6 separate regions of the Homo sapiens genome follow, and all the other regions are linked to region 1. The links come from fine-mapping of genetic effects on gene expression. A gene starts in region 1. Each other region holds a variant in brackets. All regions are shown on one strand. Distances are between the middles of the regions. Region 1 holds the start of KCTD7 (potassium channel tetramerization domain containing 7). Region 2 overlaps TPST1 (tyrosylprotein sulfotransferase 1). Region 3 holds the start of LINC03129 (long intergenic non-protein coding RNA 3129). Region 4 overlaps GUSB (glucuronidase beta). Region 5 has its middle 3.9 kb from the start of GUSB. Region 6 overlaps LINC03006 (long intergenic non-protein coding RNA 3006).

What was found. PIP is the estimated chance that this variant, and not a neighbour inherited with it, causes the effect.
Region 2: its variant is the best candidate, but not a certain one, in a credible set for the expression of KCTD7 in whole blood (TOPMed, PIP 0.52).
Region 3: its variant is the best candidate, but not a certain one, in a credible set for the expression of KCTD7 in whole blood (TOPMed, PIP 0.57).
Region 4: its variant is the best candidate, but not a certain one, in a credible set for the expression of KCTD7 in whole blood (TOPMed, PIP 0.81).
Region 5: its variant is the best candidate, but not a certain one, in a credible set for the expression of KCTD7 in blood mononuclear cells (TOPMed, PIP 0.56).
Region 6: its variant is the best candidate, but not a certain one, in a credible set for the expression of KCTD7 in whole blood (INTERVAL, PIP 0.51).

The regions. Positions count from the first base shown.
Region 1 is chr7:66,627,220-66,631,306 of GRCh38, reverse strand. KCTD7 (potassium channel tetramerization domain containing 7) reads right to left here and starts at 2,426. Exons shown (of 4, transcript NM_153033.5): 1 at 2,099-2,426. The coding sequence starts at 2,242. RefSeq lists silencers at 2,066-2,635, 3,646-3,845.
Region 2 is chr7:66,327,017-66,331,103 of GRCh38, reverse strand. The region is part of intron 3 of TPST1 (tyrosylprotein sulfotransferase 1); the gene reads right to left. Among named protein-coding and RNA genes, the nearest start is that of LINC00174, 71 kb to the left of the region's middle. The variant T/C (reference allele first, on the strand shown) is at 1,991.
Region 3 is chr7:65,836,083-65,840,169 of GRCh38, reverse strand. It overlaps LINC03129 (long intergenic non-protein coding RNA 3129), which reads right to left and starts at 466. Exons shown (of 1, transcript XR_002956508.2): 1 at 1-466. RefSeq lists an enhancer at 617-1,128. The variant A/G (reference allele first, on the strand shown) is at 2,142.
Region 4 is chr7:65,970,889-65,974,966 of GRCh38, reverse strand. It overlaps GUSB (glucuronidase beta), which reads left to right. Exons shown (of 12, transcript NM_000181.4): 6 at 1-48; 7 at 263-441; 8 at 526-672. Among named protein-coding and RNA genes, the nearest start is that of GUSB, 9.3 kb to the left of the region's middle. RefSeq lists an enhancer at 266-976. The variant C/T (reference allele first, on the strand shown) is at 2,444.
Region 5 is chr7:65,984,112-65,988,198 of GRCh38, reverse strand. No RefSeq gene overlaps it. Among named protein-coding and RNA genes, the nearest start is that of GUSB, 3.9 kb to the right of the region's middle. The variant G/A (reference allele first, on the strand shown) is at 1,765.
Region 6 is chr7:65,687,979-65,692,065 of GRCh38, reverse strand. All of the region lies in intron 3 of LINC03006 (long intergenic non-protein coding RNA 3006), which reads left to right. It also overlaps the pseudogene INTS4P2. Among named protein-coding and RNA genes, the nearest start is that of SNORA22, 66 kb to the left of the region's middle. The variant C/T (reference allele first, on the strand shown) is at 1,902.

The sequences.
Region 1 (4,087 bases):
ATGCATCCTTTTCAATATTACATCTCTCCTGCTCCAGTGAAAGTCTGCTTATCTACACAGTACCTTTCCCAGCTTTCAAATCCTTTGTGAAATAAAATAGGGTACAAATACATTAAATAAAGCTGACCCAGGGCCTTGTGCAGCGCCTGGCTCAAATAAAGACCCAAAATTCACCGAATGAATGAAAGAAATAGACAGGTAGTTACACTTCCGTGTGTGTATGCACTGTTACTCTTCTGCACCCACAGGACATGAAAATGCCTTGCGCTTATTCTGTAGGTCCTCTAAAACCATTTTATGTGTATATCAAGGGCTCAGATATCATTTTGGAATAATAATACTTAACATTTCTGGAGCTCTTTAAACCTTTTCTAAAGATACTTCATACCAATCCAAGTGCTTGCTCCATATTAGAGATGAGAGGATTGAAGCAGAGAGGACAAAAGCCATCGGAAACAGTTTTGGAGCTCACATGGGGCAATGTCATCAGTGGGGGGAACTGGTGGTGGGGCCCTGGTCTGCAATCTGTGGTCTTGTGCTCTTTCCCTCAAACCATATCATTTTCCCAATGACAGTGCACAAAAAAATAGCACCACTGTGACTAATGACTTTTTTCCAATTGCAGAGATTACTTCTAGATTTTTGCTCATTTTCCCATGGCATTGTGTGTATGGGGCTTGCAATCCCAGCACAACACTATCTGCTTCCCAAGAGCATCACCTAGCCCAGCCTGTTGAGGGCCTCAATTGTTGAGGGCCTCCATTGTCCTGGGACTCCGCATACCACATGCTCCTGGATCTGGCACTACCTTAGTCCCTGCCTCCTAGAAGCCATCTTCGGTGTCCAGTAATGCTTCACCTTCCCTCCTCTTTATTTTTTATTTGTAGAGATGGAGTCTGTGTTGCCCAAGCTGGTCCCAGACTCCTGGCCTCAAACCATCCTCCTGCCTTGACCTCCCAAAGTGCTGGGATTACAAGTGTAAGCCACCACACCTGGCATCGTTTCCCTTCTCTTGCTTTTTTTGTTTTTGTTTGTTTGTAGGTACGGTCTTACTCTATCACACCCAGGCTGGAGTACAGTGGCACAATTACAGCTCACTGCAGCCTCAACCTCCAGGGCTCAAGCAATCCTCCCAACTCACCTTCCTGAGCACCTGGGACTACAGGCACACACCACCAAGCCTGGCTAATTTTCATTTTTGTAGAGGCAGGGTCTCACTGTTGCCCTGACTAGTCTCTAACTGCTGGGATCAAGCAATCCTCCCACCTCAGCATCCCAAACTGCTGAGATTACAGATGTGAGCCACCATGCCTGGTATCTTCTCCCGTCTCTTGAGTGTCATTTCAGGTGTTGACATGATAGTATCACACACATTAAGTAAGACCCGTGGAAGCCCCTGTGCACCAGAGCACAGCAGCCTGTGAGTGAAAGCCATGGGATGCCAGGTGACCGTGCCTACATCTATGAACTGGCCTGCCCCTTATGTGCAGACAGCTCCTTGCCTTGTTCCTTAGGTAGCTGGAGACTAGGTGTGGGCAACCACTACAGCATCCTGTTGGATTCTCTAGAAGACATCTTTTTCTTTTCTTTTTTTTATTCATCCAACCCAAAATGCCTTTGTTTTTCCAGTCGTAGTAGGGACGGGGCCTCGCTATGTTGCCCAGGCTGGCCTCCAACTCCTGCCCTCAAGCGATCCTCCCTCCCAATGTGTTGGGATTACAGGCTCGAGCTACGGTGCCTGGTCAGACACACCATCAGCTCTCGGGGCTCCAGGGTCCCCCTCCCACGGCCCACCCTCCCTCCTGTCTTCGGTAAAAGTGGGACATGGCGATGGGAGTAAATCACCCCAGTGACTACTGGGCGGAGGGTGTAGGGGGTGGGGAAGCACACCTAGTGGGTGTAATTGACAGGGGTTGAAGGTGGGTGGGTAGGGGTGCAGGTGGGCGGGGGAGTTGCAGGTGGGCGGGGGAGGGGCGCAAGTCCGCGGGCCCCGCCCCCAACCCCGGCCCCGCCCACCCGCCGAGGACCGCTATGCCCCGCGCCCGCTTCTCCCCCGCGCCCCTCCCCACGCCCCGCGGCCCGCCGCCCGCCCGGGTACCTCCTGTGGCAGCAGGGGCAGCGCGTGCCCCGCCTGCGTGGCCGTCGGCGTGGCCGGCTCCAGAAAGTCGTCTTCGGCGTCAGAGCTGGACATGGCACCGTCCTGACGACGGCTGTCTGGCTCCCGCCCCGTGACTACCACCATCCCTCTGGCTCTGGGCAGTGGGCGCGGCTTCGGGCGGGCGGAGGCGGCGGCCCCGGGCACTCCCTACCGCCGAGCAGCGCCTGGCATGACGCGGCCGGCTGCGGGCTGGCCGGAGGGGGGCGAGAGGCAGTGCGCAGGCGGGAGGGCGGTGGCTCCCTCAACGCCGACCCGCTCGCGCCCAGCTGGGGCCTGACCCGACCGCCTCCCGCTACTGGCCGACGCCGCGCTGGTTCCGCCCTGATTGGCAGGAAGCTCGCCCAGTCGAAGAGCAGGCAGCGCCAGCGGCCGGCGCCTGAGTGGTCCCTGGGTTGGGGGGGGGGGGGGGGGGCGGCCTGCGAGCCTGCCGTGCACTGATTGGTCCTCTGGCCAGCGGGCGCGCCCTCTCCGAGAGACCCGGCGGTGGTGCGCCGCTACGCTCTCATAACTGGGCGTCGGAGTCTGCCGTGAAGAGGGTTCTCACCCGCGTCAGGGTAGACGCCTTATCCCTTCACACAGGGGGTCACGACTTACTCGTGTGTCTGGCCCCAGAGCAGCGGGTCCTTGTCTCCTCAATGGAAGGCCTGAGCAGCCTTTCCTGGAGGATGTGGCGGGAGGAGGGCTGAGGTGGCTGCGGACACGCCACCGCGGCTGGCCCCGCCCCGAGCCGCAGGGCACCGCCCGGGTGTCCAGTTCTTCCTCACTCGCTCGCGCAGAAATCCGAACGAGAAAACCCAAAATAGGAGCGCTTGAGTTCAATGAATAATGACAGTGACTCCCCACCGTGACCGTTTTTCCACCGGGACACACAGATGGAGACAGGCCCTTCCCCAAGATGCTCCCGGCTCCCTGGGAGGCGGAGTCCAGCCCTAGAGGCTCTATCAGCGCAGGGAGTCTCCTGGGGGTCAAGGTTCTTAGCCCGTTCAAGCCATTTTCTCCTTTCTTTAAAAGACAAAGTCTCACTCTGTTACCCAGGCTGAAGTGCAGTGGCGCAATCATAGCTCATTGCAACCCCTGGGCTCAAGCAATCCTCCCGCCCCAGCCTCCCGAGTAGCTGGGACCACAGACGCGCACCACCACACTCAGCTGATTTTTTAAAATTTTGGCCGGGCGCAGTGGCTCACGCCTGTAATCCTGGCTCTTTGGTAAGCGATGCGGGTGGATCACCTGAGGTCAGGAAGTTGAGACCAGCCTGGCCAACATGGTGAAACCTCATCTCTACTAAAAATACAAAATTAGCCAGGCATGGTGGCACACCTGCAATCCCAGCTACTAGGGAGGCTGAGGCAGGAGAATCGCTTGAACCCAGGAGATGGAGATTGCAGTGAGGCGAGATCACGGCCACTATACTCCAACCTGGGCAACAAGAGCGAAACTCCGTCTCAAAAAAGAAAAAAAAATTTTTTTTTTTTTTTTTTTTTAAGAAATGGGGTCTTGTCATGTTGCCCAGGCTGGTCTCAAACTCCTTGCCTCAAGCTGTCCTCCCTCGTCAGCCTCCCAAAGTGCTGGGATCGCAGGCGTGTGCAACCATGCTTCTCCTTTTCAAACCGTTTTCACACCCAGTTCCTCATCTCATTCTCACAGTGTAGTGACAGAAAAGAAAACTGAGTCGTAGATTAGACAGCTCCAGGATGGCAAAGATGAGCTGGTGGCATAGCACTTCCTCTGTTAGACCATCGCACTCCCAGCTGCAGGAGTGTCCTAGGTCTGTGTTTTCTCCAACTTCAGTTGCATCAAAATCCCTGGAGGGAGACCTTGTTTAAACACAGATGAAAAGGAATGAAATCACGTCATCTGCAGCAACGTGGATGGACGTCATTATGTTAAGTGAAATAAGCCAGGCACAGAAAGACATAAATATTGCATGTT
Region 2 (4,087 bases), 300 kb after region 1:
GTGAAAACCTGAGGCCTGCCAACAGTCACATGAGAGAGCTTGAAGGCAGATCCTCTCCCAGCTGAGCCTTGGATGACTGCAGCCCAGCTGACAGCTTGACTGCAACTTCATGAAAGATCCTGAGCTAGAAGCATCTAGGTAGCTTTGCCTGGATTCCTGAACCACAGAACCTATGAGACAACACGTTTGTTGATTTAAGCCATTAATACGTTTTAGAATAATTTGTTATGCTTCATATATAAATCATACAGATTTTGGTATCAGGAGTAAAGTTCCATTGTCACACATACCAAAAATGTGGGAGGAATATTAGAACTGGGAAATAGGTTCTAATAATAGGGCCCAGTTCTAATACTTTAAGGCCTTTCAGGAGAGGAGCAGTAAAGCCTAAATTGCCAGGAATTGATAGTTGGTAGATTTTAGATTGTTAGGAGGTGGACTGTGAGTTTTAAGGAATGTGAGGAACATCTGAGTAGAAACTGGAGGCAAGGGATCTCTGTTAGGTAGTTGTGGAAAGTTTAGCAACCCAATTTTACAGTGATGTGGAAGGTAGAAAATGTGCCGAATGAATTAGATGGTCTAGCTAAAAAGATTTCCAAGCAAAGTTAACTGCCAGGTTTCTTCTTGGTGTTTACAATAAGATGTAAGAGGACAGAGAAATTGAGGGAAAGATGGTTTAAAAGGAGCCAGGACACAATGGTTTTGAAAGTGGATGTGAAAATTCTTAGCCTCACCATCTTCAACACTAGCAGTGTGGCAAGCTCACATTTCCTACACTTATTCTGCTTCCCATCTTCAGAGCCCCTTCTCTACCTTCAACTCCCTTGCCTCTCCTTTATGAGGACCCTGGTGATTACTTTAGGCCCACCAGATGATCGGTAATCTCCTCATCTAAAATTCCTTAATTCCATCTGTAAAGTTCCTTTTGCCAGATAAGGTAACATATTCACAGACCCCAGGGATTAGGAAATGGCCATCTGGGTTGATTTGTTTTTCCAACTTTTATTTAGATTCAGGGGGTACATGTGCAGGTTTGTTACAGGGGTATAGTGTGTGATGCTGAAGTTTGGGATATGATTGAACCTGTCACCCAGGTAGTGAGCACAGTACCCAATAGGTAGTTTTTCAACCCTTATTTTTCCTTCCCTCTTCTGCCCTCTTGTATTCCCAGTGTCTACTGTCCCCATCTTTATGTCCATTTGTACCCAGTGTTTACCTCTCACTTACAAGTGAGAACATGAGGTACTTGGTTTTCTGTTTCTGCATTAATTCACTTAGGATAATGGCCTCAAGCGCCATCCAAACTGCTGCAAAGAACATGATTTCGCTCTTTGTTATGGCTGTGCAATATTTCATGGTGTATATGTACACATTTTCTTTATCTAATGGAAGTGGACATCTTTATGGAGCCATCATTCAGTCTACTACTTGCAAGCAATAGACAACTAATGCATTATATTTAGAATTTCTGCAGTTTATAAAGAGGAACATAGGGATGAACAAAGTGTCATATACTGGAGAAACGCCAGTCATATAGCCCTCACAAACAAAAACCTCATACACGTCTTCAAATTTTAACATAATCAGTTGTCGAGGAAAATGCTTTTATTCTTAGGGATATGCGCTGAGGAAGCATAATATCTGCAACTTTCAACTAATACCAATAAAAAAAAAGCCATGTGAGTATACATATGCACAGAGAAGATAAAGCAAATATGGCAAAATTTTAACAATAATTCTCTGTTAGGGTATATAGGTATTTATGGTACTATTCTTTCCAGGTTTCTCTATAAAAAATTGGAAAAAATCAGGAAGATAGTTTCAACACAACAAATATATTAACCATGCAAAGCTCACTGTAGTAGATTATAAGGAATATGTCATTTGTGGGCCAGGAGAAGTGGCTCACACCTATAATCCCAGAATTTCAGGATTCCTGCCTGAGGCAGATTGCTTGAGTTCCAGGAGCTCGAGAACAGCCTGGACAACA[T/C]GGAGAAGCCTCGTCTCTACAAAAAAATACAAGTATTAGCTGGGCGTGGTTGTGCGCACCTGTAATCCCAGCTACTTGGGAGGCTGAGGCAGGAGAATTGCTTGAGCCCGTGGGGTTGAGGCTGCAGTGAGCTGTGATTATGCCACTGCACTCCAGCCTGGGTGACAGAATGAGACCCTGTCTCAAAAAAAAAAAAAAAAAAAAAAATATATATATATATATATATAGAGAGAGAGAGAGAGAGAGAGAGAGAGCGGGAGAGAGAGAGAGTGAGAAAGAGAGAGAGAGAGGCTGGGATCCCAGCACTTTGGGAGGCCAAGACAGGCAGATCACTTGATGCCAGGAGTTCAAGACCAGCCTGGTCAACATGGCGAAACCTGGTCTCTACTAAAAATACAAAAATTAGCCAGGCGTTGTGGCATGTGCCTATAGTCCCAACTTCTCAGGAGGTTTAGGCAAGAGAATTGCTTGAACCCAAGAGGCAGAGGTTGCAGTGAGCCAAGATCATGCCACTGCACTCCAGCCTGGGCGACAGAGTGAGGCTGTCTCAAAAAAAACAACAAAAAAAAACTATTTCATTTGTGAATGGGCTAAAACTGAGAAACTCAGAGGTTAGCAACCTATTCTGTAACAAAGGCCAGGGTAAATATTTTAGGTTGTATGAACCACAGTCTCTGTTCCAACTACTCAGCTCTACTGCTGCAGGGCAAATGCAGCCACACAAAACATATAAATGATTGAGCATAGTATGTTCTAATAAAACTTTATTTACCAAAATGTATGATAGGGCCAGGCGCGGTGGCTCACGTCTGTAATCCCAGCACTTTGGGAGGCTGGGGCGAGAAGATTGCCTGAGCTCAGGAGTTTGAGACCAGCCTGGGCAACATGGTAAAACCCCATCTCTACTAAAAATACAAAAATTAGCTGGGCATGGTGGTGCACACCTATAATCCCAGCTACTCAGGAGGCTGAGGCAGGAGAATTGCTTGAACCTGGGAGACAGAGGTTGCAGTGAGCTGAGATCGCACCAATGCACTCCAGCCTGGTCTGGGTAACAGAGCAAGACTCTGTCTCAAAAAAAAAAAAAAAAAAAAAAAAAAAAGGAAAGGAAAAAAAAAAGAAAGAAAAAAAAACACCAAAAACACAACAAAGAGACAAACAAAATGTATGATAGGCCAGATTTGGCCTGCAGGCTGTGATTTGCTAACCTCTGATTTAACTAAAATCAGTTTTTAAAAAATAGATCTTTAGACCATCTCCAGAAATATGTACCAATGACTAAACTATGTGCTTAACACAACATTATGCATTATGGACTCTACATTTTTGCTTTTTCTCATAGTTTTCTTCAACGTACATACACACACACACACGCACTTTTTTTTTTTTTTAAGACAGGGTCTTTCTCTGTCACCCAGGCTGGAGTACAGTAGCACAATCACGGCTCACTGCAGCTTTGACCTCCCAGACTCAAGGGATCCTCCCACCTCAGCCTCCTGAGTAGCTAGGACTATGGGCACCTGCCACCACACCTAGCTAATTTTTGTATTTTTTATAGAGTCAGGGTTTTGCCATTTTGCCCATCCTGGTCTCAAACTCCTGGGTTCAAGCGATCCACCCACCTTGGCCTCCCAAAGTGCTAGGATTACAGGCGTGAACCACTGCACCCAGCTGTACATATACATTTTTTAACTCTAAAGGTTAAAAGACTAGTCTTACAACCAGGGGTTCTGAATTCAGATTTACTGTGAACTAAATATAATTTATCCCTCTCCTTTCTTTCTGTAAACTCATTGTAAACTCTAATATAATCCTTCCTTCCAATTATAGTCCAGAGCACAGAATTAATCAGAAGCCTTAGTTTCTGACAAACTTTCATCATTGGTTTATGCCTGGCCTGCTGTTATTTATTTAGTAATATAATTTATTATTTTTAAATAATGCAATAAACATTCCCCTTTGAAGAATTATGACTTGATAGTTTCACATGCAGAGAAAACAAATAACTCCAGCCAGATATGATTACACAAAAAGGAATCTGGAGTTTGAAATCCCCCTGGGCTCCTGTGGTCCACCAGATGCTCATTATCTCTAAAA
Region 3 (4,087 bases), 790 kb after region 1:
CTTGGCCTAAAGAGCCATTGGGTGGCAGGAGCTGGGTGTGTAGAGGCTGCTGAAAGGCAGGCGCTTGGCTTGTGGGGGGCCACGGTGAGGCAGATGCTGGGCCTGGAGAATCTGCTGTGAGGCAGATATTGGGCCCGTAGAGGCTGACAGAAGGCAGGAGCTGGGCCTGGAGAGGCTGCCAGGACACAAAAGCTGGGCCTGAAGAGGCTGCCAAGAGGCATGAGCTGGGCCTAAAGAGACCAGTGTGACAAGAGATCGGCCTGGAGAGGCCGACTTGAGGAAGATTTTGGCCTAGAGAGTCTGTCAGGGGCAGGAACTGGGCCTGGAGAGGCCACCGTGAGGCATGAACTGGGCCTAATGATGCCAGTGTGAGGCAGGAGCTGGGCCTGTCAAGGCTGCTGGGAGGTAGGCAGGAACTTGGCCAGGGATGACCTCCGTGAAGCAAGAGCTGGGCCTGGAAAGGCCATTGTCATGCAGGAGCTGGGCCTATCCAGGCTACCAAGAGGCAGAAGATTGTGCTGGTGAGCTTGACGTGAGGAAGTTTTGGGCCTACAAAGGCCTCCAGGAGCTGGGCAGGAGCTGAGCCAAAAGAGATTGTTGTGAGGCAGGAGGTGGGCCTGGAGATTCAGCTAGGAGGAAGAACTGGGCCTGGAGAGGCTCACTTGTGGAAGTTCTGTGACTAAAGAGGTTGCAAAAAGGCAAAAGCTGGGCCGGAATGGCCACCATGAGGCAGGAGCTTGGCCTAGAGAGGCCACTGGGAGGCAGGAGCTAGGCCTGTAGAGGCTGCCGAAAGGCAGGAGCTTTGCCTGGGAGGCTGTGGTGAGGCAGATACTGGGCCTGGAAAGTCTGCTGTGAGGCAGAGGTTGGGCCTGTAGAGGCCAATGGGAGGCAGGAGTTTGGGCTGAAATGGCAGACTTGAGAAAGTTCTCAGTCTGGAGAAGCCACCGGGATGCGGGAGCTGGGCCTGGAGAGGCCACTGAGAGGCATGAGCTGTGCCTAAAGAGGCCAGTGTTAGGCAGGAGCTGTGCCTGAAGAGGCGACTTGAGGAAGTTTTGGGCCTGGACAGCCCGTCGGAGGCAGGAGCTGGGCCTGGAGAGGCTGCCGTGAGGCATGAGCTGGGCGTAATGAGGTTAGTGTGAGGCAGGACCTGGGCCTGTCGAGGCTGCCGGGAGGCAGGTAGAAACTTGTTCAGGGAAGACCTCCGTGAGGCAAAAGCTGGGCCTGGAGAGTCAGCTGGGAGGCAAGAGCTGGGCCTGGAGATGCTGTTGTCACACAGGAGCTGGGCCTGTCCAGGCCATTGGGAGGCAGAAGGTGGGTCTGGAGAGCTTGACTTGAGGCAGTTTTGGGCCTACAAAGGCCACCAGGAGCTGGGCAGGAGCTGAACCAAAAGAGGTTGTTGTGAGGCAGGAGCTGGGCCTCCAGGCACAGCCAGGAGAAACCTCAGCCTTTAGAGGCCACCTGGAGGCAGCAGCTGGGTCTGGAGAGGCCAACGGAAGAAGGCAGGAGCTTGGCCTTGAGAGGCTGACTTATGGACATTTTGGGCCTGTATAGGCTGCCCAGAGGCAGGAGCTCGGACTAAAGAGACTGTTGTATGGCAGGAGCTGGGCCTGTACAGGCCACTGGGAGGCAAAAGGTGGGCCTCAAGAGTCCACTGTAAAACAGGAGCTGAGTCTTGGAAGGTGGCTGTGAGGCAAAAGATGGCCCTTGGGAGGCTGATGAGAGGCAGTAGCTGGGCCTGGTGAGGTTGACTTGAGAACCTTCTCTCTGGGCCTGGAGAGAAGGCTGGGAGGCAGGAGTTGGGCCTAAAGAGGCCATTGTAATGATGGAGCTGGGCCTGTGGGGGCTGCCATGAGGCAGCAGCCTCATCTGTGGAGACTGCCATGAGGTAGGGTATGGGCCTAAATAGGCCATTGTGAGCCACAAGCTTGGCCCGTAGAGGCCGACTGGAGAAAGTTCTGGACCTGGAGAGGCTGCCGGGAGGCAGGAGCTGAGCCAAAAGATTCAAGCGCATTACATTTATTAGGCACTTTATTTCCATTATTACATTGTAGTATATAATGAAATAATTATAGAACTCACCATAATGTAGAATCAGTGGACATGTTAAGCTTATTTTCCTGCAACAAGATGGTCCCATCTGA[A/G]TTGATGGAAGAAAGTGACAGATAATCAGGTATTAGATTCTCATAGGGACAGCACAACCCAGATCTCTCGCATGCACGGTTTGCATAGGATGCATGCTCCTATGAGAATCTAATGCTGCTGCTGATCTGAGAGAAGGCGGAGCTCAGGCGGGAATGTGAGCAATGGGGAGTGGCTGTAAATACAGATGCAGCTTCCCTCACTCAACACCACTCACCTCCTGCTGTGTGGCTCCTTACAGCTCCATGGCTCAGGGGTTGGGGACCCCTGCTGAAGTGCATCCAAAAGGACCATTCCCACACCAGTCTTCATAGCGGTCAAGTGCAGCAACCACTTAGCTCCCAAGGCATGTGCCTCAGCTGGCATTTCATCACAATCAACAGTAAGCAGTAGCTTGAGTCATTGTGAGGTCACTTCCTGGAAATCACCAGCATTCCGTTTCCCATTGGCAAGGAGCTCAGCACTGCCCCTTGGATAACCAAACCTATCCCCAAATCCCATCTGTGTGAGTCTATCTCCAGGGACCCTTCTTAGCATATTAGAGTCCAACCAGGAGACATAAACCACTCAAAAGTTTAAAGTGGTAAATTTAATACAGAGAATTATTCATTGTAACAGGGGAACAGCATAATGAGAGACTGGCTAGCACAAAGTAAAGAGAACTCCAGAGAATATAGGACTAGCCCAGGCCAGGCATGGTGGCTCATGCCTGAAATTCCAGCAATTTAAGAAGCCAACACAGGAGGACTGATTGAGGCCGGGAGCTAGAGATTGGCCTGGACAACACAGTGAGACCCTGTCTCTATCCAAAAAAAGAAAAAAATTAGCTGGGAGTGGTGGTGCACACTTGTAGTCCCAGCTACTCAGGAAGCTGAAGTAAGAGAATAGTTTGAGCCTGGGAGGTCAAGGCTACAGTGAGTCATGATTATGCCACTACAGTCAAGCCTGGGTGACACAGCAAGACCCCGTCTCAAACAAAACAACAAAACGACAACAACAACAACCATTTACAGACAGAAAAGAAATAGAGCTAATAAGCTAAGGGAAGATGCTGAAATGTGACCAAGTAATATGCGGTATTTTATCTATTTAAAATAATCAAACAAAAAATAACTTATTAAATTATAATACCCTGTGCAGGCAAAGGTGCAGTGAAATGGACACTTTCTTATACTAGGAGGGGTGTTTAAATTGTACATAGTCTTCCAAGGTAAAGGTTGGCAATTTTTTAAAATAATAGAGACAGGGTCTCACCTTACTGCCTCCTCCAACTCTTGGCCTCAAGCAATCCTCCTGTCTTAGCCTCCAAAGGGCTGGGATTATAGCCAGGAGGCACCCAAAACCTTGTCAATGTACATCAAGGGCAATGAGAATGCCCATTCACCATGACTCACAGTAATCTTACTTCTGGAAATACCTTGGGGAGACAATTCAATCTAAACAAAAGGTCATCTGCATAAACACAGTGAAATTCTGGGAGTAATTGAAAACAGAGTGGTTAAGTTAAGTAAGAAACAGTTATAAGAAATTATACTATGGTATTTATAGGCACCTGGTAAAAGGTCAGTTAATGTTAGCTGCTACTTTTTTGTTGCTTTGAGACAGGGTCTCACTCTGTCACCCAGGCTGGAGTGCAGAGGCCTGATCACGACTCACTGCAGTCTCAACCTCCTTGGACTCAAGTGATCTTCCCACAGCAGCCTCCCAAGTAGCTGGGACTACAGGAACATGTCACCACACTAGGATAATTCATGTACTTTTCTGTAGGGATGGTGTCTCCTTTGGTTTCCGAGGCCTGTCTCAAACTCTTGGCCTCAAGCCATCCTCCTACCTCAGCCTCCGAAAGTGTTGTGATTACTGGTGTGAGCCACCACACCTGGCCAGCTGCTACTTTTATTATTATTCCTCTCAATTAAAAATAATTTTCATTAAAAATTATCATTTTCAA
Region 4 (4,078 bases), 660 kb after region 1:
GGGAAACCTTTCTATTTCCACGGTGTCAACAAGCATGAGGATGCGGACGTGTGTTGGGGCTCCTGGGTCCTTGTCGGGGCTGCTTCTGGTCACCCTCCACTTTCGCCTTCCCTGTGTCCTGCAGTTGAGGGCAGCTCAGGGCAATGAGGCAAATGGCTCCAAATGGAGAGGGGGCTCATGGGGTGGCTCTCCAGGGTCCTGGCTCTCAGAGGAAGTGCAGCTTCGACAGGGACAGGGGTCACTTGGCTCTGCTATCTCCTAGATCCGAGGGAAGGGCTTCGACTGGCCGCTGCTGGTGAAGGACTTCAACCTGCTTCGCTGGCTTGGTGCCAACGCTTTCCGTACCAGCCACTACCCCTATGCAGAGGAAGTGATGCAGATGTGTGACCGCTATGGGATTGTGGTCATCGATGAGTGTCCCGGCGTGGGCCTGGCGCTGCCGTGAGTCTCTGCTGTGCACCTGCTCCGCCTGCCCAGCCCGGGGGCGTCACCGTGACCCTCTGTCCCTTCCCTCCTGGCCCGCAGGCAGTTCTTCAACAACGTTTCTCTGCATCACCACATGCAGGTGATGGAAGAAGTGGTGCGTAGGGACAAGAACCACCCCGCGGTCGTGATGTGGTCTGTGGCCAACGAGCCTGCGTCCCACCTAGAATCTGCTGGCTACTACTTGAAGTGAGTGCTCCCTCCCTGCCCTCGGCTAGAGTGGGAAGGAGACCCTGGCAGGTGGCTGGCCTCGGTGGGCATGTGCTGTTCAAGATCGGCCTCGTGTCCAGCCCAATGGGAAGGCCGTCCATACCCAGATAGTTCAGGGGACCAAATATCTACCCACCCAAATTGTGGTTTTCTTTTTTGTTCTTTTTTTTTCTTTTTGAGATGGAGTCTCACTATATGGCCCAGGCTGGAGTGCAGTGGGGTGATCTCCGCTCATTACAACCTCTGCCTCCTGGGTTCAAGTGATTCTCCTGCCTCAGTCTCCTGAGTAGCTAGGATTACAGGCACCCATGAACCACTGTGCTGGGGCTGTTTTTTTTTTTCAAAATGGGTTCTCACTCTGGTTGCCCAGGTTGGAGTGCAGCGGTGCAGTTTTGGCTTACTGCAGCCTTGACTTCCCAGGCTCAGGTGATCCTCCTGTCTCAGCCTCCCAAGTAGCTGGGATTCTAGATGTGTGTCATCACGCCCAGCTAATTTTTGCTTTATTTTTTATTTTTTGGATATGCAGTCTCCCTCTATTGCCCAGGATGGAGTGCAGGGGCATGATCTCAGCTCACTGCAACCTCTGCCGCTCAGGTTCAAGTGATTCTCCAGCCTCAGCCTCCCGAGTAGCTGGGATTACAGGCACATGCCACCACGCCCAGCTAAGTTTTCCTTTTTTCCTTTTTATGAGATGGAGTCTCACTCCGTGGCCAGGCTGGAGTGCAGTGGCGCAATCTCGTCTCACTGCAACCTTCACCTTCCAGGTTCAAGTGATTCTCCTGCCTCAGCCTCCTGAGGAGTTGGGATTACAGGCACACGCCAACATACCCTGCTAATTTTTGTATTTTTAGCAGAGACGGGGTTTCACCATTTTGGCTAGGATGGTCTCGATCTCTTGAACTCATGATCCGCCTGCCTCGGCCTCCTGAAGTGCTCGGATTACAGGCGTGAGCTACCACGCCTGGCCAACTTTTGCATTTTTCAGTAGAGACGGGGTTTCACTATGTTGGGCCAGGCTGGTCTTGGACTACTGACCTCAGGAGATCCACTTACCTCGGCCTCCCAGAGTGCTGGGATTACAGGCGTGAGCCACCGTGCCCGGCTAATTAGAGACTGGGTTTCACCATGTTTGCCAGGCTGGCGTGGAACTCCTGGCCTCTAGTGATCCTCCTGCCTCACCTTCCCAAAGTGCTGGGATTACAGGTGTGAACCACCACACCTGGCCCCCTTTTCTTCCTTACAATCGTGCAGTTCTAACTCAGCGTTCAGAGTTGGATTTTTCACTTGGGGTAGAAGCAGGAGAGGTGGTAGAAATGCCTCTTGACTCATACAGCACACCCCAATTTCATGCAGTGCTTTGGGCTGAGCCAAGTCTGCAGCAGGCAGAAGGCTCTGAGAAGTTGTTGCAGCCTGGGCCAAGGACAATTCAGAGCTTGGGGGCACAGGGGTGTGCTCAGCAGGACTGGGTGGACAGGCCCTTTGTTGCGAAGGGGAAGAGTACAGGCTTCCAGGAGCAGGTGTTTGAGGCTTCTTTGGGAGGTGGCCAGAGGAGATGCCTGTTTTCTGGGGCAGGATTTGGAGGGAGCCACCCAGGCTGGAGAGGTTCAGCCAGGCTGTCACAGGCTTTGAAGTTTCCCATCTGAGAGCCTGGCTGTTGGAGAGTGTGGGTTTGGAACTTGAGGCTAGGGGGTTCTTTTCTGATCTGTGCCAGCCACAGCCTTCGGATAGGCAGAGCAATGATGGGGGAGGG[C/T]GTAAAAGAAGAAATGAACTGAGGAAAGAGAAGAGGAAAACAGGCTTCAACAACAGTCTAGGCTGGGTGCGGTGGCTCACGCCTGTAATCCCAGCACTTTGGGAGGCCAAGGTGGGTGGATCACCTGAGGTCAGGAGTTTGAGACCGGCGTGGCCAACAGATATTGAAACCCTGTCTCTACTAAAAATAAAACAATTAGCGGAACACAGAGGTGGGCGTCTGTAATCCCAGCTACTTGGGAGGCTGAGGCAGGAGAATTGCTTGAGCCCAGGAGGTGGAGGTTGCAGTGAGCCAAGATCATGTCATTGCACTCCAGCCTGGGCTACAGAGTGAGATTCTGTCTCTCAAAAAAACAAAAACAAAAACAGTCTGTACTGTGGAGGCCTCGGGCAGGTGCCAGGAGCTCTGAGCACAGACGGGTCCCTCTGTTGGGTTTTTCTTCCCTTCTAAGGGCCATTTCTTCTTATTTATTTATTTATTTTTTGAGATGGAGTTTTGCACTTGTTGCCCAGGCTGGAGTGCAATGGCACAATCTCGGCTCACCACAACCTCTGCCTCCTGGGTTCAAGTGATTCTCCCGCCTCAGCCTCCCGAGTAGCTGGGATTACAGGCATGCGCCACCACGCCCAGCTAATTTGTATTTTTAGTAGATATGGGGTTTCTCCGTGTTGGTCAGGCTGGTCTCGAACTCCCAACCTCAGGTTATCTGCCTGCCTCAGCCTCCCAAATAGCTGGGGCCACAGGTGTGTGCGGCCATGTCAGGCTAAGTTTAAATTTTTTTTTTTTTTTCCGCAAGATGGAGTCTTGCTTGTTGCCCAGGCTGGAGAGCACTGGTGCAATTTTGGCTCACTACAACCTCTACCTCCTGGGTTCAGGCAATTCTTCTGCCTCAGCCTCATGAGTAGCTGGGATTCCAGGCGCATGCCACCATGCCCAGCTAGGTTTTTTTTGTATTTTTTTGTAGAGATAGACTTTTACCATGTTGACCAGGCTGGTCTCAAACTCTTGACCTCATGATCCACCCGCCTCGGCCTCCCAAAGTGTTGGGATTACAGGCGTGAGCCACCATGCCCGCCCCTAATTTTTAAATTTGTTGTAGAAACAAGGTCTTGCTATGTTGCCCAGGCTGGTCTTGAACTCCTGGTCTCTGGTAAAACTCCCAAAGTGCTGGGATTCTAGGCGTGAGCCGCCTTGCCCGGCACTTGCACCATTTCTCTGCATGCGTCTCCACTCCCACTGCCCAGGACCTGTGGACTTAGATTTGAGTCACTGCTGAGCACCTCGCACCTAGCCCCATGCCTGCCTCCCAGCCTGCACTCCGTTTGCTTGATGCATTAATAAATATCCCTCCCAAATCTGCATCCATCCACCTCCTGTGTTCAAGAGCTGTTTCAGGGCGTCAACCTCATTTTTGCCAGTGTCCAGCCTAGTGACCTCAGCTCTGTGTACCTGGAAGAGTGGCTGCTCCTCTGGGGGTATAGGATTCGGAGATGGGGGTAGAAGGAGTGATGTTAGAGAGCTCGGTCTAGGACTAGAGGATCATATGCCCTTATGTAAAATACATCTCAAGTTAGGGAAGAAAGCAGCGGCTCCATGCTTTTTTTTTTTTCCCCTTTGTTTTTGTTTGTTTGTTTT
Region 5 (4,087 bases), 640 kb after region 1:
CGATCACTTGGCGCTTCAATTTGTTCTCCCTCCCCACTTGTTTTTTTATTTTGCCTTCCCCTACTACTCACTTTCTTTCCCTTTATTTATTTATTTATTTAAGACCGAGTCTTGCTCTGTTGCCCAAGCTGCAGTGCAGTGGTGTGATCTCGGCTCACTGCAACCTCTGCCTCCTGGGTTAAAGCAATTCTCCTGCCTCAGCCTCCCGAGTAGCTGGGATTACAGGCATGTGCCACCACACCCAGCTAATTTTTGTATTTTTGGTAGAGACGGGGTTTCACCATGTTGGCAAGGCTGATATCAAACTCCTGACCTCAGGTGATCCGCCTGCCTAGGCCTCCCAAAGTGCTGGAATTACAGGCATGAGCCACCCAGCCCGGCCTCTTTTTCCCTTTAAATATTGAAGTCCCCAGACCGTCTTTGGAAAAAAAAAGCATGCATCACAAATATTTCCTGTGGTTTTTATTTCTTTTTTCCTCCCACTGCATCCTCAACTTTCACAAAATGACCTCTAAAAATGACTGAGACACGCTTCAGTAATTTTCTTTGATTTACAAATGCTTACCAAATTCAGATGCTTTAATTCAGCAAAACACAACAGCTAAAACAAAGATATCAGAAAAATGTTGAATGGCTGGCCAGGTATGGCAGCTCATGCCTGTAACCTCAGCACTTTGGGAGGCCAAGGCTGGAGGATCACCTGAGGTCAGGAGTTTGAGACCAGCCTGGCCAACATGGTGAAACCCCGTCTCTACTGAAAATACAAAAATTATCCAGTTGTGGTGGTGAGCACCTGTAATCCCAGCTTCTTATTAGGCTGCGGCAGGAGAATTGCTTGAACCTGGGAGGTGGAGGTTGCAGTGAGCTGAGATTGTACCACTGCACTCCAGCCTGGGCAACAGCGTGAGACTCTGTCTCAAAAAAAAAAAAAAAAAAAAAAAAAAAAAGAAAGAAAGAAAGAAAGAAAGAAAGAAAAAAGAAAAATGTTGGATAGTATCTGTGTCTCTGAAAAAGAAACAGATCAGGCCAGGCATGGTGGCTCACTCCTGTAATCTCAGCACTTTGGGAGGCCAAGGCAGGCGGATCATGAGGTCAGGAGATCGAGATTATCCTGGGTAACATGCCTGTAATCTCAACACTTTGGGAGCCTGAGCTGGGAGGATTGCTTGAGGCCAGCAGTTCAAGGCCAGCCTAGGCAACATAGTGAAACCCTGAATACAAACTTTTTTTTTTTTTGAGACAGACTTTCATTCTTGTTGCCCAGGCTGGAGTGCAATGGTGAGATCTTGGCTCACTCCAACTTCCGCCTCCTTGGTTCAAGTGGTTCTCCGGCCTCAGCCTCCCGAGTAGCTGGGTTTACAGGCATGCACCACCATGTCTGGCTAATTTTGCATTTTCAGTAGAAATGAGGGTTTCTCCATGTTGGTCAGGCTGGTCTCAAACTCCCAACCTCAGGTGATCCACCTGCCTCAGCCTCCCAAAATGCTGGGATTACAGGCATGAGCCACCATGCCCAGACTAAAAAATGTTTTGTTTTTTTTTTGAGATGGAGTCTTGCTCCCTTCTCGCAGGCCGGAGTGCAGTGCTGTGATCTCAGCTCACTGCAACCTCCAGCTCCCAGGTTCAAGCAATTCTCCTTCCTCAGCCTCCCCATTAGCTGGGATTACAGGTGTGCACCACCACACTCGGCTAATTTTTGTATTTTTAGTGGAGATGGGCTTTTGCCATGTTGGCCAGGCTGGTCTTGAACTCCTGACCTTAGGT[G/A]ATCCACCTGCCTTGGCCTCCCAAAGTGGTAGGATTACAGGTGTGAGCCACCACACCTGGCCAACAAAATGTTGTAAAAATTAGCTGGACATAGGGTCAGGCATGAAGGCTTACACCTGTAATCCCAGCACTTTGGGAGGCCGAGGCAGGCAGATCACCTGAGGTCAGGAGTTCAAGACCAGCCTGGCCAACATAGTGAAACCCCGTCTCTACTAAAAATACAAAAATTAGCCAGGCATGGTGATGCACCTGTAATTCCAGCTATTCAGGAAGCTGAGGAAGGAGAATCGCTTGAACCTGGGAGGCGGAGGTTGCAGTGAGCTGAGATTGTTCCAATGTACTCCAGCCTGGGCGACAGAGTGAGACTCCGTCTCAAAAAAAAAATACATAAATAAAAATTTTTTTAAAAATTAGCTGGGTGTGATGGCATGTGTCTGTAGTCCCAGCTACTTGGGAGGCTAAGGCAGGAGGATCACCTGAGCCCAGGTGGTCGAGGCTACAGTAAACTGTGATGCAGCCTGGGTGCAAGACACTTTCTCAAGAAAAAAAAGCCTTTGCCAGGTGGTATGGCAGAGTGATTCAGAGTGACAGCATAAACACTTGGAAACAGATTGATTAGGTCAGATTCCCAGTTCTGCATCTTACTAGCTCTGTGGTGTTAGAAAAGTTACTGAACCTTCATGTGTCTCAGTTTCCACATTTGAGAAATGGTAGTAATAATAGTACCTATCCTGTGGTTTGGTTATGGTTTGTTTGGCCCCACCAAGTGTTGTGTTGAAATTTGATTCCCCACTGGGCCCAGTGGCTCACGCCTGTAATCCCAGCACTTTGGGAGGCCAAGGCAGGCGAATCACCTGAGGTCAGGAGTTTGAGACCAGCCTCAACATGAACAAACCCCATTTCTACTAAAAATACAAAATTAGCCGGGCATGCATGCCTGTAATCCCAGCTACTCGGGAGGCTGAGGCAGGAGAATTGCTTGAAACTGGGACGCGAAGGTTGTGATGAGCCAAGATGGCACCATTGCACTCCAGTTGGGGCAACAAGAGCGAAACTCTGTCTCAAAAAAAAAAAAAGAAAAAGAAAAAGAAAAAGAAATTTGATTCTCAATGTTGGAAGTGGGGCCTTGTGGGAGGTGTTTAGGTCATAGGGGCAGGTCCCTCATGAATGGCATGGTGCCATTCTCGTGGCAATTAGTGATTCTCACTCTTTTTTCTTTTCTTTTCTTTTTTTAATTTTTTGAGACAGAGTCTTGCTCTGTTCCCCCAGGCTGGAGTGCAGTGGTGTGATCTTGGCTCACTGTGACCTCCACCTCCCGGGTTCAAGTGATTCTCCTGCTTCAACTTCTCTAGTAGCTGGGATTACAGGCACCTGCCACCATGCCTGGCTAAATTTTGTATTTTTAGTAGAGATGGTGTTTTACCTTGTTGGCCAGACTGGTCTTGAACTCCTGACCTCAGGTGATCTGCCCGCCTCAGCCTCCCAAAGTGCTGGGATTATAGGCGTGAGCCACTGCCCCTGGCCTGAATTACTGATTTTTACATACTGTATAAACGTCTGCATCCTACTTTTTCTTACTTTTGTTAAATTTGGCCTAAAGCTGCCTCATAAACAGTGAACTGTATTCTAATTTAAGCATGTCAAGATTTCACTAATGAAATATAAAAGTAAAATTTAAAAAAAGAAAATATGAAAATAAAAAAACAATGTAAACATTTGGGAGAGAGCCTTTAGGCCTTGTCAGTTCCCAGAATGTACTTATTTTCACTATGCTGGGGACTCCATTTCCAGTATTGAGGTCCATTTTCAGAAGGTGGATTTGGTGAGCATGAAAAAAGGGGGTGGGGGAGTAATCATACAAACAATTGTGTCCAGGCCAGCTTCCTAGGACATGAGGGCTCCCTCTGTATGGCAGAGGCACCTGACATCCGTAACTGTTGTGCACCCTGCGAATGACTTTATGGTCTAAGAATGTATGTTCAGAGCCCCAGCTAAGGAATCAGGAGTGGCAAGATCCTGGAAGGATGCCAATCTATGAAACCCTGAGTCAAGAGGTCAAGCTGGGCACTTGTTTTCCTTTTTCTTTTTTTTTGTAGGAGTTTCACTCTTGTTGCCCAGGCTGGAGTACAATGGCGTGATCTCGGCTCACTGCAATCTCTGGTTCAGGCGATTCTCTCACCTCAGCCTTCCCGAGTAGCTGGGATTACAGACATGTGCCACCATGCCCAGCTAAATATGGAGATGCGGTTTCTCCATATTGGTCAGGCTGGTCTCGAACTCCCAACCTCAGGTGATCTGCCTGCTTCAGCCTCCCAAAGTGCTG
Region 6 (4,087 bases), 940 kb after region 1:
AGGCAGGAGAATTGCTTGAACCCGGGAGGCAGAGGTTTCAGTGAGCCGAGATCAAGCCACTGCACTCCAGCCTGGGTGACAGAATGAGACTCTGTCTTCAAAAAAAAAAAAAGGAAAGAAAAGCAAAGAAAAGAAAACTCAGACCACCCTAGCTACACTGCAGAAGGAGATGCCAAAGCTGCCTGCCAACACATCAGGGCCCATCCTAAGCACAGAGGATACAAGCTGGATCATCCATGTCTGGTTCAGCTGTGTCAAAAAATGGGTGGGTGCTCAGAAGCTCTGGCACCAAGGGAAGCACCAGGGTTGGATGCCGACTTCCCAGAAACTTCAAGCACCTGAAACAAACAAATAAGAATGCACATCAACAAATTAGTAAAGTTAGTCCTTTGAAAAGTACTAGGAACTGGAATCAGAAAACCTGAACTGGAATTGGAAATTCTCAACCATATACTTTTGCTAACTCTATGACTTCAGATAAGTCACCCAGTTATTCTGGAACTTGGTTAATTCATCTAAAAAAACTGGTTATTATAAAGATAAAAGAACTGTTTATTTAACCAACAGCCATTTCCCCCATCTTTCTTCCTGAGAGAGCCCTGATTTTACTCAGGTATCAGGCAGGCAGCAAAGTGCTCGGAAAAGGCAGGTCCAGCCCAAGAGCTGAACCACTATTGGTCTAAACCCATCATGGCAACCCCATTCCCATTTTCCAGTGACTGGTTTGCTGGTACGCAAGTAAGCCAGTTCTAGACAATGGAGCACGAGAGTATGCTGGCTGGGGAGCTTCTCAGGGATGTTTTTGCAAATCAAAAGAGCAATGCATGAAAGGGAATGACCCTTCCTTTCTGTCTTGAGATATTATCTTATGAGGCAGCCATCTTACAACCATGAGAAGAAAGCCGGCCGGGTGCGGTGCCTCACGCCTATAATCCCAACACTTTGTGAGGCCAAGATGGCTGGATCAGGAGGTCAAGAGATCAAGACCATCCTGGCCAACATGGTGAAACCCCATCTCTGCTAAAAATACAAAAATTAGCTGGGCATGGCGGCACGGGCCTGTAGTCCCAGCTACTCGGGAGGCTGAGGCAGGAGAATCGCTTGAACCTGGGAGGCGGAGGTTCAGTGAGCCGATATTATGCCAATGCACTCCACCCTGGCGATAAAGAGAGACTCTGTCTCAAAAAAAAAAAAAAAAAAAAAAGAGCCAAGAGAACTGCAGAGAAACCAAAGAGAGCCCTGGTAACCTGTTGAATGACCAATCCTGAAACCAACCTTCTGACCTCGTTATGAAAAAACAGACTTATTGGCTAAGATATTTTTAATCAGATTGTCTTTTTTATTTGTGGGCAAAAACATTCTAATTGATATCCTGGGTGAAGTCCTGAAATCACAGATCTGTCTGAAACTAAGTAGCCTTATGCAAGTAAATTTTTTCATCTACAAAATGAGATTAAAAGTCATTACTTCATAGAGTTGCTATATGCATTAAATAACTAACATAAAGTACTCAGCAAAGTGTCTGTCACATAGTAAGAACTCAATGTTAGCTATTATAACTACCTGAGGGCCCTTTATAAACTATAAGGAACTATACAAGCAAGGTAATTATACATTTTTATTATTGTTTATGGTTTTTTTTTTTTTTTTTTGAGACTGAGTCTTGCTCTGTTGCCCAGGCTGGCATGCAGTGGCACAATCTCGGCTCACTGCAACCTCTGCTTCCAGGGTTCAAGCGATTCTCCTGCCTTTGCCTCCCGAGTAGCTGGGATTACAGGCATGTGCCACTACGCCCAGCAGATTTTTGCATTTTTAGTAGAGATGAGGTTTCACCATGTTGGCCAGGCTGGTCTTGAACTCCTGACCTCAGGTGATCCACCCGCCCCAGCCTCCCAAAGTGC[C/T]GGGATTATAGGCGTGAGCCACTGCACCCAGCCAATTAAGTGCACCTTCTAAACCAGAACTTAATGAATAAAAAATAATAAGGCCGGGCACAGTGGCTCATGCCTGTAATCCCAGCACTTTGGGAGGCCAGGGCAGGTGGATCACCTGAGGTCAGGAGTTCAAGACCAGCCTAACCAACATGGTAAAACCCCATCTCTACTAAAAAAAAAAACAAAAATTAGTTGGGTATGGTGGCGTGCACCTATAATCCCAGTTACTCGAGAGGCTGAGGCAGGAGAATCGCTTGAACCCAGGAGGCAGAAGTTGCAGTGAGCTGAGATCACGCCACTGCATTCTAGTCAGGGTGACAGAGCGAGACTCCATCTCAAAAAAAAAAAGTAACAAAACAAAACACTATATAGGAGAAAGAGGAAATCTAATTAATTTATTTCTATACTTGTAACAGCTACCACAAGGGTTGGTGCGTAGTCAGCACACAGCAGGCACATAATATTTGCTAGGTGGATAGATGCACAAATTAGTAAGTAATCTAAAATGTGATATTCAGCTTAGGAATCAGATTCCTGAGAGCGGTTAAGTTCAATCAGGTTTCTAAAGTAAAGGCAAAATTCAGGGCCGTACCACCCTCAATCTATAAGGACGGAACAAATGTCAGCATTGTACATTTACCACATTATGCGACTCAGTGAGTAAATGGGCAAAAAAGTCATTACTTCCATATGGAGTCCCTATCAGTAGGGTACTTGGTTAAATTTTTCAGCAGCTCCACCAATGCAAGATGAATCCCTTCTTTGGTTGAAACATTAGTACAGCATAAGAGTTCATGAAGAGCCTCTCGAATATCTCTGGCTGAATCCTTTTAAAAAAAAGTAATAATAATAGTAGTTACTGTTGGTTAGCAGACTCAGCCTCTATCTACCATCCCCTTCTCCCCAGCCACCTTCCCATCTAGGGTGGCCATGTAACAAAGTATGTGGAAGTTTTTTGGATGAAATTCCTGAAATATCTTTCATTTTATTGATAAAGGACCAGAGGCAGTAGCTTTATCCCCTTTCTTCTTTAACCTTCCTTTTCCATCCTATCTGGGACTCAATCATGATGCTGAAGGTACAAGAGCCTTTTTGCAACTAGGAAAAAGGACAGGCTAAGAAGAAAGGCTAAGAGAGAGGCTGGGAATGGCCAGTTAGCAGAACACTCAGAACACACACACTTACTAAGTTTGCCATCTTATACAGGCACAGTTTGTGGCATCCCAAAGCAATTACAACAGTAACATCAAAGATCACTGATCACAGATCACTGTAACAGATGTAATAATGAAAAAGTTTGAAATATTGCAAGAATTACCAAAATGTGACACAGACATAAAGTGAGCACATGCTATTGGAAAAATGGCACTGATAGACTTGCTCAATGCATGGTTGCCGCAATCTCTCAATTTATTAAAAAAATACAATATCTGCAAAGCCCAATAAAGAGAGGTATACCTGTATGTGCTAAATGGAGGAGTGAGGGAAAGAGTCGATCTATCTGAAGTGAATTTCAAGATTTCAAGAATGAGAAATGTTAAAAGAGAGGCAAATCGAAATGTCACTCCTATCCATAAAATTCTGCAACAGTTTTCCATAATGTTAGAATAAAATCCAGACATCTTAAAATGGCCTACAAGGCTCTCCACCTCTCCCTAATCCCCTCTCAGACTTCATTTCATGCCACATTTCTACTTTCTCACTGTGGTTCACTCCTACTGGCTTTCTCTCTATTCTGCAAACACAACAAAGCTCACTTGTGTTTTAGAGCCTTCCCACTAGCTGTTGCCTCTACCTGAATTTATTCTCCCGGTCTTCACATAGCTAGCTTCTGTTTACCATTCAAGACTCAACTTGAACATCATCTCCTCAGAAAGTCTTTACTAACCACTCAAATTACAGAGAAATTCCCCATTCCTCCATCATACTGTTTATCTTCTGCAAAACATTTATCACCATCTGAAATCATTTTGTTTGTTTACTCCACCTCTCTTTAGAATATAAGTTTTATGACAGCAGGGATCCTGTCTGTTTTGATATCCCTATATTTCTAATACATAGACAGTGCTTGTTGAATAAAGAAGTGAGTTTTTCTAGGCAGGGTAGGATCTTGACATAGCAGGAAAAAAAAAAAAGGCAAATTCCACCTGGAAGGG